Regions from separate parts of the Homo sapiens genome. Here region 2 is linked to region 1. Evidence: fine-mapped expression QTL. Tissue or cell type: whole blood. Region 1 holds a variant in brackets; the other region holds the start of a gene. All regions are shown on one strand. Distances are between the middles of the regions.

The links. PIP is the estimated chance that this variant, and not a neighbour inherited with it, causes the effect.
Region 2: ANKRD22 starts here. The variant in region 1 is fine-mapped to the expression of ANKRD22 in whole blood (TOPMed, PIP above 0.99).

What each region holds. Positions count from the first base shown.
Region 1 is chr10:88,815,478-88,823,888 of GRCh38, reverse strand. LIPM (lipase family member M) reads right to left here. Exons shown (of 9, transcript NM_001128215.1): 6 at 8,386-8,411; 7 at 7,002-7,073; 8 at 5,993-6,064; 9 at 3,343-3,657. The coding sequence ends at 3,388. ANKRD22 (ankyrin repeat domain 22) reads left to right here. Exons shown (of 6, transcript NM_144590.3): 5 at 511-609; 6 at 871-3,993. The coding sequence ends at 948. Among named protein-coding and RNA genes, the nearest start is that of LIPM, 17 kb to the right of the region's middle. The variant T/C (reference allele first, on the strand shown) is at 3,974.
Region 2 is chr10:88,848,985-88,856,121 of GRCh38, reverse strand. ANKRD22 (ankyrin repeat domain 22) reads left to right here and starts at 4,278. Exons shown (of 6, transcript NM_144590.3): 1 at 4,278-4,535. The coding sequence starts at 4,515.

The sequences.
Region 1 (8,411 bases):
TATATGACACTAACATACATATACATTGAGACAGAGAAGAAATTTTTTTTTTTTTTTTTTTGAGACGGAGTCTCGCTCTGTCGCCCAGGCTGGAGCGCAGTGGCGCAATCTCGGCTCACTGCAAGCTCCGCCTCCCGGGTTCGAGCCATTCTCCTGCCTCAGCCTCCGGAGTAGCTGGGACTACAGGCACCCGCCACCGCGCCCGGCTAATTTTTTGTATCTTTTAGTAGAGACAGGGTTTCACCGTGTTAGCCAGGACGGTCTCGATCCTCTGACCTCGTGATCCGCCCGCCTCGGCCTCCCAAAGTGCTGGGATTACAGGCGTGAGCCACCGCGCCCGGCGAAAAATTTTTTAAGTACTAGAAATAGTTGTCTATCAATGGTTTGCAGACTATTTTTCTGCTTAGTTGTATACTACAAAGTGTGAAAAGGATTTGCCAATGAAGCCACATGCTATGGTCTGTGGAGGGCCCGACTTATGAGCTGAAGTTTTGGCCCTTTGTGTTTCAGTATGGCTGTACCGCATTACATTATGCCTGTGAAATGAAAAACCAGTCTCTTATCCCTCTGCTCTTGGAAGCCCGTGCAGACCCCACAATAAAGAATAAGGTAAGGGAGGGTGGACCGTGGTCTGAGGTTCCTCTAGCAGCAGCATCTTCTAATCTAGGCCTTATGTTGAAGTAAATTATTTGCCTCTGACGTAAACAACAGTAAAATTAATCATCCTCATTAAGGAATGAAGTTATCCTATTACTATTAGGACTGATTGCCTTTTAAAGCCCTTGCCAACACAGAGAGTCAATTGGTCTAAGCTACGTACGAGATCTTGGGCACTCTATTGGAAATAACTGTATATTTTTCCCCCCTCAGCATGGTGAGAGCTCACTGGATATTGCACGGAGATTAAAATTTTCCCAGATTGAATTAATGCTAAGGAAAGCATTGTAATCCTTGTGACCACACCGATGGAGATACAGAAAAAGTTAACGACTGGATTCTATCTTCATTTTAGACTTTTGGTCTGTGGGCCATTTAACCTGGATGCCACCATTTTATGGGGATAATGATGCTTACCATGGTTAATGTTTTGGAAGAGCTTTTTATTTATAGCATTGTTTACTCAGTCAAGTTCACCATGGCCGTAATCCTTCTAAGGGAAACACTAAAGTTGTTGTAGTCTCCACTTCAGTCAGAAACTGATGTTTCAGCTAGGCACAGTGGTACATGCCTGTAATCCCAGCTACTTGGGAGGCTGAGGTGGGAGGATCACTTGAACTCAGGAGTTTGAGAGCAGCCAGGGCAACACAGCGAGACCCTGTCTCAAAAAAAAAAAAAAAAAAAAAAGCCCTGGTGTTCCAAACTCAGTCTTTCCTGAAGAAGAGGATCTGAGTTATCTTCTGAAACAGCGTTCTCCCTTCCCAGTTGTATCACTCTTATAAAAAGACTGTCCAGTCTATGTCATGCCCTAGGAGACAAACTGTTCCTCCCAGCCCCCTTTGAGTATTGAGCAGAAGAATCAAATTATTAAATACGTATGTTTGTACAGAATGGTATTTGTGTATGTGTGTGGGCTTAGAGATTCACAAGTAAATATTCCTTTGGTGAAGGAATTTCAATAAAAACATCTATCAAGTGTCAGCGGTGAGTGTGTTTACACCACAGAAATTGGCAAATTGACAAATCAGAGTTTGTTTTTGTTTTTTTGTTTTTTACTTTCCATAAAGTTCGTTTACCAGCATACCACTAGAGATTTCGGTTTACAAATAAAAGCCATCTTGGTTTGAGCAAGACTATGCAACTATGAAAATGTTCGTTTAAAAAAATCTTCATGATCCTTTTGTAAATACAAGGTGGTTGCCAAGCTTGTTAGTTTTGTTTATTTTATTGATAGATGTAAAATATTATTGTAACTTATTTGGATAAAGTTCTTCAAAAGAAACAGAGCTATACAATGAGGTAGGATCTGGATTATTTGTCTAAGTGAGAGATTGCGAATATCAAAATATCTGTCTCACTTCTTCTGTGAATGACACAGAGTAGAAATAAATTCACTTTAAAAATATGACTGAATTTTGAAAATCAAGACTGAATCTCACATAGCTGCAGACAGGAACTAAGCCAGCCTCTTTGTATGTGGTAACAAGTACAGTATAAGAATGAAAGATTTACCATCCTTGAAAGCTCTAATGAAAATCAAATCCAGCAATATATATTCAACTGTGTACAGGATTTAAGAAACTTATTTTATGAAGGAAGTAATAGTGTGTAGATATAGATTCTGAAGTCTTTAAACGTGTCTTAATAAATTAAGATTCACTGGCATTGAGCTGAGCTACCAGGTGACCCTTGGGGACAAAAAACCCACACAAGTGAATTTCACACACCAGTATACCTTCAACAATATACTTTTGACACACACAAACCTTTGATTTGGTTTCAGAGATTTTGCAAAATAGTACCAATGTAATTTACAACTGTCATCTTTGAAATTGTGTAAAAGTGGAATAATTTTCTGAAGAAATAAATCATGGTTTGTCAATGAGTTGCAGAGACTGTCTGACATTAACTTTGTCAAGATTAAAGGATAAAGTATATGACAATTTGTTTCATCATGCTCATGACATTATGCAATTTTCTCCCTAGCTTTTAATTTTTGGAGGCAGAAAATTGAGCCAGAAATTTTTAGTCATTAGGTCTCCTAGCAACAAGCTGTAAACCTTCCAACAAGCTTGGACTAGAATCTAGACACTGAAATGCACATACATGCTTTATGTAATGCAGAATGCATTTATTGGAGAACTCATAAACATCCTATAAAATTTTCTTCCCTGAGATGCAACTATAAAACTTGGCCTTATTCTGAGAATGCTTAACATAGATTTCATCCATACTGTAACACTGATTTTGTTGTTGTTGTCCTTAAAGCAGCTCAGCTTCCTGAGGTAGTGTTATGTCTCTGTGGCAACAAGGTGAAAATGTCTAGCTTATTTTGTCAAAGTCAACAATAATCCACAGACTCCAGACCTCAATATCTGTCCCAATTTGCCATTTTACTTTAGTGCTCCAAAAATATGGCTTATAGAAAAAACAATAGGTGTTTTAAAGAGATTTACCTGAATGATATAGAGAATGTCTAGATATTTTCTGGCTATCAGGTAAAACCTACCCTTCAAGATGGTAGAATATATAATAGCATACAAAACCTCTATTTACCTAATAAGTACTTTAATTTACAGAAAAAAAATGTAAATGTAAGTGTCGGATTTAGTGCCAAGTGCAGGGAATCTGAAAAATGTATACTAGGTCTCTGCTCTCCGTAATTCTGCCTTCATGGGTCCTAGCCCCATCCCTCAGGAGGTTGTCCTAAGATCGTCAGTGTCAGATGCTTCACAATACGGCCTCACACCGTCCCTGGGAAAGGTTGGTCTCCTCCTGCTGCATCAGATGGATGATTTCATTGTACATACGGTGAGGAGCATCCAAACCCCAGATGAAATCCACGTGAGCCCATTCAGGAATATTCTTATGGTAGATGAGGTTGGTCACCTCAGAGAGCAGCATTTTCACGTCTTCTGGATTTGAAAGCCAGTCCTGACCTCCTGTCCACATTGCTGTAGGGACCGTCATATCTCTGACTCTGTACCTTACAGGAGTTGGCTAGAGAAAAGGAATAGTTCTTAACTCTAGGTAACATTTGGACTTTCAGGCTCATAATTTATGTTTCAAATAGACATAATAAACATGCCATCTGTTGTGGTGAAGGGTACATGGGTGTTAGAGCCACACAACTCTGTTAAGAATTTCTGTTCCCGCCCTTACTTTAAGGTAAAATTACTTAACATTATTGAACCTCAGTTTCTTCTTCTGTGACTGGGGATAATATCTGTAATAACTTGCTAGATCAAATGACAAAACACATAAAAACATGTAATGCCTTGTATTTCTTTTTTCTTCCTATTAAATATTTTGTAAA[T/C]AAATTGTTTTTAAAAATAATGCCCCTGTTCTTTTAAAAGATAATTTCACAAACATTTCATGAAAGAAGAATTATATTCCACAGAGAAAAGCAAGGAATCTGCTGGGAAGGGCTCTGCATCTTCACAGTCTTTATGTGATCCCAGGCAGCCTTTGAGGCAGACCCGGCTTGACTGCATTTGCCAGAACCATGGCCTATGGCACTCAGGTAATTTGAGCTAAAGGGAAGTAAAAGTTAAATACCTGCTCCAATCCTTATTCCTCACCCTTCCCCACCAAATATACCAATTAGTATTCCTAATACCTGGGAACTTTCCGTATTTATGCAGTGTTAGTAGAATTAGCCTAGCCGGCTGAGCCCTTGAGATTAATCAGCATCCAGAACTTTCCTCAGAAGTGGTAAGGCCCATTTCTTACTCAGGAAATCCACCATGGAGTCTTGGCTCCAATCCTAGATGCTCTGGTTTCTCTTTGTGGCTCAGTTATGGCCTAATTTGGATAAGGAAGGTTGAAAAATTCTATGGGGCTAGTAATTTTTTTTGTCATCTTACAGGTGAAAAGATTGAACTGAATGTCATATCTCGCTCTGAGTTTCTGTGATTCTATGATTTTTTTTGTGTGTTTGTTTACTCTTCCCTTCCACTCCCATTTTCTGGTGCCTATTCTGCATGAATCAATTTCTCTAGAACTCAGTCCATTAAATGTTGATAAATTAAAGCCATCTTAGGGCCGGGCACAGTGGCTCACGCCTGTAATCCCAGCACTTTGGGAGGCTGAGGTAGGTGGATCACTTGAGGTCAGGAGTTTGAGACCAGCCTGACCAACATGGTGAAACCCCATCCCTAAAAGTACAAAAAAAAAATTAGCTGAGCATGGTGGCGTGCACCTGTAGTCCCAGCTACTCGGGAGGCTGAGGCAAGAGAATGGCTCAAAGCTAGGAGGCAGAGTTTTCAGTGAGCCGAGACTGCGCCACTGCACTCCAGCCTGGGTGACAGAGCAAGATTCTGTCTCAAAAGTAAATAAATATAATTAAAAAAACATCTTTGAACAGAAATACTTTCTCTAAAGACATATTTTGGGAAACAGTGAAGAAAGACTTCAAGAGAAGCAGCTGATACCAGAGATTGAGAGTTCACTATCCAGGGGCACTGCACAGTTTGTCCAGTTTCCTAGCATTTTACATCTAGATAGACATATGGCAGCGGATGTTAATTTATGATGTGAGGGTCTCAAAGAAAGACTAAGCTGTGTCTAATCTGCCCCTTCCAGTATTGTTTCTATGGTAAATATTTATTTACATTCATACACATGATTACCAAAAATCTTCAGAAGATTTTATGTTCTAAAGGGCATACCTGTGCAATTCTGAATCTCCACACTTTGATATCTAATTTTAGTTCATAGCATTAGCTACATATTTTCTTGGGTAATGTAATAACATTTTTAAAAAATGTAACTTGCAAATTACAGATTCATTTAAAGTATAACTAGGGAGAATGCCTATGGATTTTCTAAGCCCAAAATTTTTATTTTCAAGGTAAAGAAATTGAAGCCTGAAAAATTAAAGCAGCCTCCCTCCTATTACAGAAGTTTATAGTGCAGAGGCAAAACTTACACAGCAATCCTCACTTGCCATTTAATGTTCCTTTTACTGTGCCATGAAACAAACTTACTGCCACCATCCCATTTTTTTTAATTCTAAAATAATCCTTCTAGTATCCACCATAGACTACACTCTTCTCTTGACTAAATCTACTTCATCTTGCTCCTGAGAAGCCCAGTACCTTGTTTAGGGAGACAGCCTCAGCTAAAAAGGCCTCCTACTCCATTGTAAAAGCAGAGAGGTTTCTTGGATCAGCTGTGAACTTAACCATTTTCAAATGGAGTCAAACATGAACCATTATTTTCTGCTTAAATTTTCATATTTTATTCCCATATCTAGAATAAACTGTCATTATAACGTCCCTGTCATACATTTCCAATGTATATATTTTCAGCAGATGGTATTTGATTTTCTTACCTGATTGCATTTTTCCAGATTTTTGGTCTCACTCCCCCAGTCAAATGCCCGGAGTTCACCAGAATTCACTGCCTAAAAGGAGACAAAAATTTACAAGGAATTCCAACGTCTCAGTGGATAAGCGTGGTGGGGTGGTGGAAATGTGCTACCCAGTGTGCACTCATGAGGGAAGGAGAGAGCAATGGTTGAGCTGCTCTTCCATTCAATGTTGGGATAAGCGTCTCAGGAAAATGGTAAGACAAGAATGAGGCCTTTTGAGAAGAAAGAGGGACTACATAAATTCTTGATCATTGCATTAGCAACTCCAGGAAGTGCATCTTCATTGTAATTAATGTGAGTGGGTATCCTCCACAACTGTGTGGGCTACAATGGGGAATCGTGCCCTGGAATTGTGCAATGTGGTGATCCTGGAAGATAGCAACCAAAATTTAATTGAACTTATAATTCTTCTCTGGTTTTGATGGTACAATTGCTCTCTCTCTCTCTGTCTCTCCCTACCTGTCAACAGAGAGAACTCTCTCCTTCCCCCATCCCTCTCTTTCACACACACCACATAGACACACAGAGGTGTGTGTTTCCTGTAATTGCAGGTAAAGTTTGCAGTGTGAAGGACTCCTGTGAATATCTCTTTTGACAGACCCCACATTAGCATTTTTGTTTCTACTTGACTGTATTGTTGGAGGAGCTGAAGAGAAGATGTAGAAACATAATTATCTCCAGCCACATCTTTGAGGTGTCTAGAGACAGAGAGAAGTCTCACTTGGATCATCTAAATTCATACTTTTAAGATCTAAAGAAGTTCTTAGGCTACTTCTGTCCTTTCTTCCCATTTCTTGAAAAGTTTCAGTGATCTAGATCAAATTCTCCATCAAAATAGCATCGACGATACTGCATTTCATCTTAGAATAAGTGTGAAATAATCCCTGGCTTATCTAAATGGTGTCCTTTGACTATTCTACACAAAATATAACAGGACATTTAGCAAAGACTGCAAATTCAACATTCTTACCTGGCTCCAGTGTAGAATATTTTGCACAGATGTTCCAGCAAGAGTGTGGGCAGCATATACACTTGCTCGGCTCTGTAACAAACCATGAGTATTCTGGGGGACATAGAAAAACTCACAAGATGTATACCCTGTCAAGACCAAATCTCCAGGGTGTCAGACTAAGAAATGGTAACATTATTAAGTTATCAGCAATTATCTATGAAACAAAAATATGTACATGCACGTAAATAAAATGTCATTAAATGTATTGCCAGACACCGGTATTTTTCATCTGAGAATAGGTTCTCATCAGAGATCTGGCCCCTAATTAAAAAAAATTTTACTAGTGATATTTAGGATGAGGGCTCTAGCATTGGGCCTGTATTCAAATCCTAGTTCTGCAGTTTAATTTTTAGGTGAATTTGAGTGAGTCACTTAATCTACTAAATCTTAGTATACTAATCTGCAAAGTGGGGATATTAATAACACTCATAGGCTTGGTATAGGTAATAAATTAGCCTGATACATAATATATACTTTTCATATCCTTACTATAAATCAAATTATTAATCTTAAAGAAGAAGAAAAAATATTCAGAATTAAGGAAATGTTGCCCCAGCTGCTGGGAGTGCTGCTGGCAAACAGCCCTCCACTCTCAGTCTGCTTTGAGGATTGCACCAATTGTAGGCAGATACATTGCCCAGTGCTACCCTGTTACTGGTATGGCTACATTAAATGACTGACTGATATGGTGTATAAAGACCCAACCCTCTCTTCCTAACTTGAGACGGTTCTGAAGGGTCATCCTATCTTCAAAAATCCCTGCAGGATCAACTAAGTCTCCTATTGAGACTGCATCACTACTTGACTTTTTCACCTACCTAGTCCTGTTTCTTTTCCTTCTCTAGGTATTATCCCTAGAGCAGGACCCAAATCATTGTTCACATTAACCTCCATCTCAGAGTATGCTTCCTAGGGAACCCACCCAGTGATACCAACTGGTAGCCTAAGCCAAAATGAAGGTCCCTGATGTTCCATCAAAGAACTTAAACTACAAACCTACAGGACCCCAGTGCAGGGTAGAGGTGGATGATGCATGACAGTTGTCTCTGTTGTCTAACATGTGCTAATTGCTCTTTTTAATTTAATTCACTGTAGTAAAGCTGCTTTCAGACCTCTTCCATCTATAATCTGTGATTTAATATCAGCAATGCCCTTATGTTAACCTTGTTTCAGTCCATACTGAAGCATTTCCCTTATTTCCTTACAGTTTGCAGAGAACTGAGTTACTGAGAATATATCATTACTCTGAGTCTTCACTGGCATTAGCTCTCCCTCCAGGGGTGAGCCATATGACTCCCAGCTTTATGCTGGGATGCTGGGAATTTACTAGGCTCCCACTTACCATGTTCATATTGTTGGTGTTGAATC
Region 2 (7,137 bases), 33 kb before region 1:
GGATTAGCATCCAAGATGAAGTTAATTTTGTCTCCACATACCAGTAGGAAAAAAAAAAAGCTAGCTTGCAGAATGCCAGGGTAGGCATTGAAGAACCAAACATAGAAAAGTGTGTTCAATGCTAGGAGATAGCTTAATAACTCATAGTTGGCAAAGTCTGTTATTTCTACCTCCTAAACTCTAGAGTTTATCCTATTCTCTCTATCCACACTGCTGCTCTTCTGCCCCAGGTAACTATTATCATGCAGCTGACCTAATGCAATAACCTCCTAACTAGTTGCTGTTTCTTTTTTCCTGCCTCAGATCCACTCTCTGTACAACAGCCAGAGTGAGCTTTATTATATAAATAAAATTCTGATTACAACACTCCTCTACTCAAATCTCTCCAATGGGAGCCAATTTTACAGTAAGTAGCTAGTCAGACATGAGCAGAGTAGGAGAGGGCTCCCCCCACCCACCAGGAATGTCAGGTGAACATCAGGTGATAGTAAGGAGGTTGTTAACCGTCTCTCTAAAATAATAGTTGAGGGCCAGGCGTGGTGGCTCATGCTTGCAATTCCAGCACTTTAGGAGGTCGAGGTGGGCAGATCACCTCAGGTCAGGAGTTTGAGACCAGCCTGGCCAACATGGTGAAACCCCGTCTCTACTAAAAATACAAAAATACAGGTGGCAGGTGTCTGTAATCCCAGCGACTCTGGAAGCTGAGGCAGGAGAATCGCTTGAACCTGGGAGGTGGAGGTTGTAATGAGCTGTGATTGTACCACTGCACTCCAGCCTGGGCAACAGAGCAAGACTCCATCTCAAAAAAAAAAAAATTATATATATATATATATATATATATATATATATAAAATAACAATTGGTCACAGCCAGTGCCAGGGAAAGGCAGTCTCCCAATAGACAGAAAAAACTTGAAACTGGTGATCAGCAGCTTCCTGATAAGATCTCAGGAGTTGGGCGAGTGGGTTCAAGCATGCACATTAAGAGGCAGAATGGCAGAGTTTAACTGGTATATTACCTTCTAGGGACATTCAGCTGGTAAGAGAAGAGTGCTTCAAGTAAGCATGCATACAACTCCAGTAAACACACTGTGCATGCTCCCCTCCCAAATCCTGGTGGGCCACTGCACATGTGGACAGCCCACCAAAGGGCAGAATCAGGGGAGAAGGAATGCAGGACCCTGGAAGTATGCCAACGTATAAAAACCCCGAGTCAAAAGTCAAACTGCACACTTGTCTTTCAAGTTGCCCACTTGGTCCTCTTCCAAATGTACTTTACTTTGTTTATTCCTGCTCTAAAGCTTTTTAATAAACTGTCGCTCCTGCTCTAAAACTTGCCTTGGTCTCTTCTTCCATCCTATGGCCCCCAGTTGAATTCTTTCTTCTGAGAAGGCAAGAATTGAGTTTGCTGCAAACCCACACAGATTCACTGCTGGCTGGTGACATATTTTGGTGCCGTGTGACTCAGATAACTTCCACTGCTAATGTCAATGTTGGACAATGTTAGATAATGTTGAAGGATTAAGATATCAGCGTAAAACTGAGTTTCTGTGGACTATACTTCTTTGTTATGCTCTACTGAACCCCTCTTGGGGGGAAGTCTTTGGGATACACCTTACAAGAGACTCATCTCTCACAGACAGTTGGCTGCTGGTCAGTGGAGGTTGGCTGCATTTACAGCCAGGATCAAAGGATGCCACTAATTTTAAGTCCCTAGTGTTTAATTCAGATTAAACACTAGGTTTATTTCTTGACAGAAGACATTTGTCTTCTTGACAGTGTTATTTCTTGACAGAAGACATTTACCTGTGAAAGCTGTTTTCTGGAACTTCTTTTCTTTACCTGTCTTTGTAATTATAGGCTCAAAATTGCCAGAGGAAGAACCCTAAACACTTAAAAATATATCTGTTTATCCAACTTCATTCTGACAATATGCCTCCGTATTCCAATTTGACACTATAGTTTACGAAGTCCTCTTCCTTCACCTTTAATTCTCCTTTTGGCTTAGACTAGAGTTTCTCTACATTAGCACTCTTCTGAGCTGGGTAATTCTTTGCTCTGAGAGGCTGTCCTGTGCACTGTAGGATGATTAGCAGCTTCCCTGGCCTCTGCTCCCCACATTAGAGTACCATGCTCCCACTCCTAGTTGTGACCACCAAAAATGTCTCCAGACATTGCCAAATGTCTTTAGTTTCCAATAAAACGACGTTCTCCATTAAGCAACATAATTTTTTAGTGTATGTATGTCCCATATGACATTTCAGAAATTTATCTGAAATTCAAATTTAACTGAACATCTTATCTTTTTCGTTGCTAAATCTGCAGTCTATCTGGGGGCGAGATAACCCCTGGTTGAGACCCAATGGCCTAGAGTTAAATCCAAGTGTTTTACAAATAACAATGAGTCAACTGCTTTTTTCATTGGTTTGTTTTTTGAGCTAACCCTACATCATTTGCAATTATAATGAGTACTGTTCCTTTAGAACCAGATGTTGTCAAGAGATGCAGAATCTAATAAAATGAGTTTTGATCCTGATTGAAAGTTAAAGAAACATTTAGAGCTCAGTCAGGGAGGAAAGAGCTTGAAGAAGAAAGCTAGCAGCAACCTTAGGAGAGAAGCAATGACAGTGAAGAGTTCTGTCCACACAAATTAGTTGAAAGAGGTTACAAAAGAGGCTACCAGAGGTTACAAAATATTGCATAACAGAGTGAAGTACCCAATGGATATACCATTAATGTTTTTCTAAGTCAATGGGAAGACACTTAAATGTCTTAAGAGTCTACAGAAATACAAAATCAAACCAAGCCAAAGAGGAAGTCAGCTGCAATTTTAGTGGGTATTGCAGACTTCCCTCTCCTCCAACGGAAGAATTAGCTAATTCTTAAACTCCAGAGAGGCTGGCCTCGATGTCAACTGCATAGTGAAACATAAAATCTTTGAAATAATTATAAAAATAGCTCAGTATATCCACCAGTGGAGTAAGAAGAATTTCCCTGAATATTTATAAGCACAGGCCTAGTATCCTGGTCACTAGTTTCTGGCCACTAAGGAGCCTCAACTGATTGGGAAAATCACATCAATTGGTTTGAGATGGTTGAACTATTTCTTCCATGATATTATTGAGCAAATAGGCTTGCTGCCCCCTGCTCACAGAAGCCAATATCTGGACACTGGGTTTTGAGGAAAGAAAAACTTTATTGCAAGACAGGTCAGCAAGGAGACAGGAGGTGGGCTCAAATCTGCCTCCCCAGTTTGGAATCTGAGAAAATGTATGGCTTAGAGGGTGAGGGAAAGGATTTAGGAATGTTGGTTTGGCAGGGACTGATTGAAGGGCTTCAAATTTGACCACTAAAGGTAAGGTATGTTGAGGCAGATTTCAGCCCTGGATCTTTTGGGCCAATGAGCCCCTAGCTTCTGAAAGAGGTCCTGCATTTAGGTTCCCGTCATGTCCTTGTCTTCTTGGTTCCCAGGGGAGGGATCATTTGTTCTAGGTTCTGTTAGAGGCAAAAACATTTTTATTGTGCATGCCTGGGCTAAATGACTTACAGTTTTTGGCTCTGTTATATCTACAGAGTAAATTGACATTTGTTATCAACAAAGTACGGCCCATTTGGGCTGGTCCCATGGTTATAATGGGTGTGTGGACGGTCGAGTGTTTCAATTCTGGGAAAGTTTGATGTGATTGTATTCAGTTCAAGGAAAATGTGTGAATGATATCATATATAGCATATAAAATGTTTACAATATTTAAGAGATTGGGCATACTAGCATGTTTGATAAATAAATTGATGATGCAATTTAAAATGCATAACAGAGTATTTGATTTTAGACTTATGATTTTTAAATTGAATATTATAAAGTAATTTGGCTAAATGTGTGAATAGTATTGGAATATTTAAAACAACTTAAGATTTATTATGTTAGTAAATTTATTAGTTTACAAAACTGCATAAATAGCTGGAAAAGCGTTACTTGTTAGGCTGAGAATTTTGAAGATTATTTTTCAAGTTCTTTGCCAGACACGTGTGGCTCTCACAAGTAAGTTTGTTGGTCTCTAGCCTTTCTCAATGGCCACTGAAAACCAGATTTTGATTACGAAATGTCTGAAATACAGTATCTTGGTTTGAACCGTGAGTCCTTCCTGCCAATGTAAGAACTTTTCTTCCTCCCTTAACTTTGCTTCCTTCTTTCCTGCATGTTACCACTGGCAGAGCAAATATGACTCAGAAACCGGCTCCTCAGGGTTGTAACATTAGATGATACAGGCTTGGGTCGTTACACATGACACCAGTGCCTTTGTTTCATTGGGCTGGGCTCTCTGGAAGGTGTGCTGCTGCCTGAGCTGCTGGAAAAGCACTGACAGGTGTTTGCTAGAAAAGCACTCCTGGAGCTTGCCACCAGCTTGGACTTCTAGGGACTTTCCTCTCAGCCAGGAAGGATTTTGATATTCATCAGAAATACCTCCAGAAGATTCAAGGAGCTGTAGAGGTGAAGTAAGCCTGTGAAGGACCAGCATGGGAATCCTATACTCTGAGGTACATCACCTTTCTGAAAGCAGAGTTCCAAAGATGTTAAAAGTTACTCATGCTTTTCAGATGCAATTTTCTATCCCTGTTAATATATTTCTGTTTTGTCTGTTCAACTCCCTGGGGGAGCATTAAGTCAGAAAAAATAAAGTCCTATGTGTTATTCTTGTTGATATTCTTAATAGTTTAAGACAAAGTATTTTGTAATTCTAAAATATTAGCTAGATCTAAGTTGAGATGAATATAATACACATTTCATAGTATCTGGATGTTTGCAAGGATAATTTGGACAAAATCGAGTTTGAGTTGTGCTTTTCTCATGACAAACACTCAGAGAAAAAGAGAAAATTGTACTCAATTGGATTTTCTAAATATCCAAAAGATTGACTGCCTCTTTTATGGAACCACATGACCAGAGTAATGCCTTTCAGCTTGGTATTTGAAGGGAGATTCACCTTTAGTAAATATTAGTAAAGACTATCACTATGAAGAAGAGGAATAATAACATATTTTGATGATTTGATTATTTTCTTTTCACATCTGATAAATACTGAGGTACTTTTACTTGTATTGGAAGTAACTTATTAGAATCAAATGGATTTTTAATGATGTTTCAAGAAAGTACAAGCAAGGAATGTTTAGACAAGAGTACAAGAGGTGTAATGATGTCATTATACATAATTTACTCTCTCTCTCCTCTGACACAATTAACTGGTTAATCTGCATTTCATTGCAGATGCTCAGGGGAACCTTCTTGGATAGTTTTGATCTAGTATTAAAGACAGTTTATTTGCAGTTATTTCTAATGCCATGTGTGTATATATCTCTCCGTGTGTGCAAATGCAGTGTTTGATTGGTTTATAACTCTAGGTATGTCTTGCTCAGTGATTTTAGCCTCATGAAGGGATCATATACATGAAAATGACAAAACATATAGTGCTTTTAAATGCTACTCTGGTAACTCTCAAACTTTAGACTGCCCAAGTGTCAGGGAGAGAAGTTTGTTTGAAATGCAGTTTCAAGGGACTCCAACCCAGAGAGTCTGTTTCACTCAGTCTATGGTAGGATACAAAAGTATACTTTTTAAAAGGAGCATCCCAGGTGGTTCTGACATAGGGGTGATCTGTTTACCACCATCCTGAGAAAGAAAGACTGCCACAGGCCAGTGCTTTCCCGTTTTTAATGTCTATACAGATCTTCTGAAGGTCTTGTTTAAATGCAGATTCTTAGTTTGTAGACCTGGGTGGGACCTAAGATTCTGCATTTTGGTTGCTTTTTCAGATTGCATGTGGGAATTATATGTGATTTGGAAAAAGGAAAAAAAAAAGCCTAGTCTCATCCTCAGGTATTCTGATGTAGAAAGTTGGAAGTAGGACCTTTCATCTATAGTTTTAAAGAGTTTGAGACTCTTTAAAATTAAATAGTAATCTCTTAAATATTTAAACATAGCCTACTCATTTGTAATATATCATTTGCTCTGTGTTTCCTAAGGATAAAGATTGTGAGCTACTCATTAAGGACAAGAAAAAAGCCTGCTGGATCCCTGGTCCTATGTTGCCTGGAAGAATCTATTCAAAAAAAAAAAAAAAACTTCCCCCAATTTGAGTGCGGGAAGCTCCTCTAGATTGGGGACATAGGGTTATCATTTTTCCTTAGAGCTTTGCAGTGCTAATAGTTATGCAATATATATTTTTAAGAAAGAAGGAGAGAATGAGGGAGGATCCCAGAGAGCTGGTCCTGAAATCTGCACTAGAGGATAAGCTTAGAGCTCAGTGAGAGGCCCTAATTTTGAATAAGTAACTCCAACTGCGTAAGATGGACTTTTAAACAAGGCTGATTCATTTAAACCCTTATCAAAGGTATTTGTTCATAATATTTACAATAGCAACAAACATGTATTTAGGGCTTCTTATAGATTAGGCCCTATTTTAAGCACTTTATATATGTATTAACTCATTTAATACAGCAATCTTGTAAGAGTCACTTTTAGTATCCTTATTTTACAAATGAAGAAACTGAGGAAAAGGTAGTCACTGGCTCATAGTTACACAGTTGAAAAGTGCTTATTGGCTGGAGATTGGTGGCTAGGATGAGTCCTGTGTTTACTCATTCAAAGAGATTCTTCTTACATCACTGCTGAACTACTAAATTTTTCTACTACTTGTTATTTCAACAGATATGTCATGCTCCATAAGAGAATTGGTCTTAACCACTCTGGTGTTCTGCCACTGTTCTAACCAGGATGGTGCCCTGTTCCCTTAGTGGAAAGAATGAGTAAACTAAATCCAGGTCCAATGAGGTACATTCTACTGCTACCTTGCAACAGAGAACTGTTGCATTGTGAAGTAGCACAAAAATCGGAAAGAAGAAAAATGCTGAGAACTTAAAAGAGTTCAGGAACTAATACTTAGGAGACTTAAAGAATCTTTTACAGACTTTTGGTCTCTTCAGTTGCAGACACAGGCCCCAAAAAGCGTTTCTTGAAAATCATATCTTAAATGATGTATTCCTTTAAACATTGGGAAGTTCTCATTATAAGGCTGTAAGTAAAAGGATGCACACACACCCACACACACACACACACACACATGCACATGCACACACACAAACT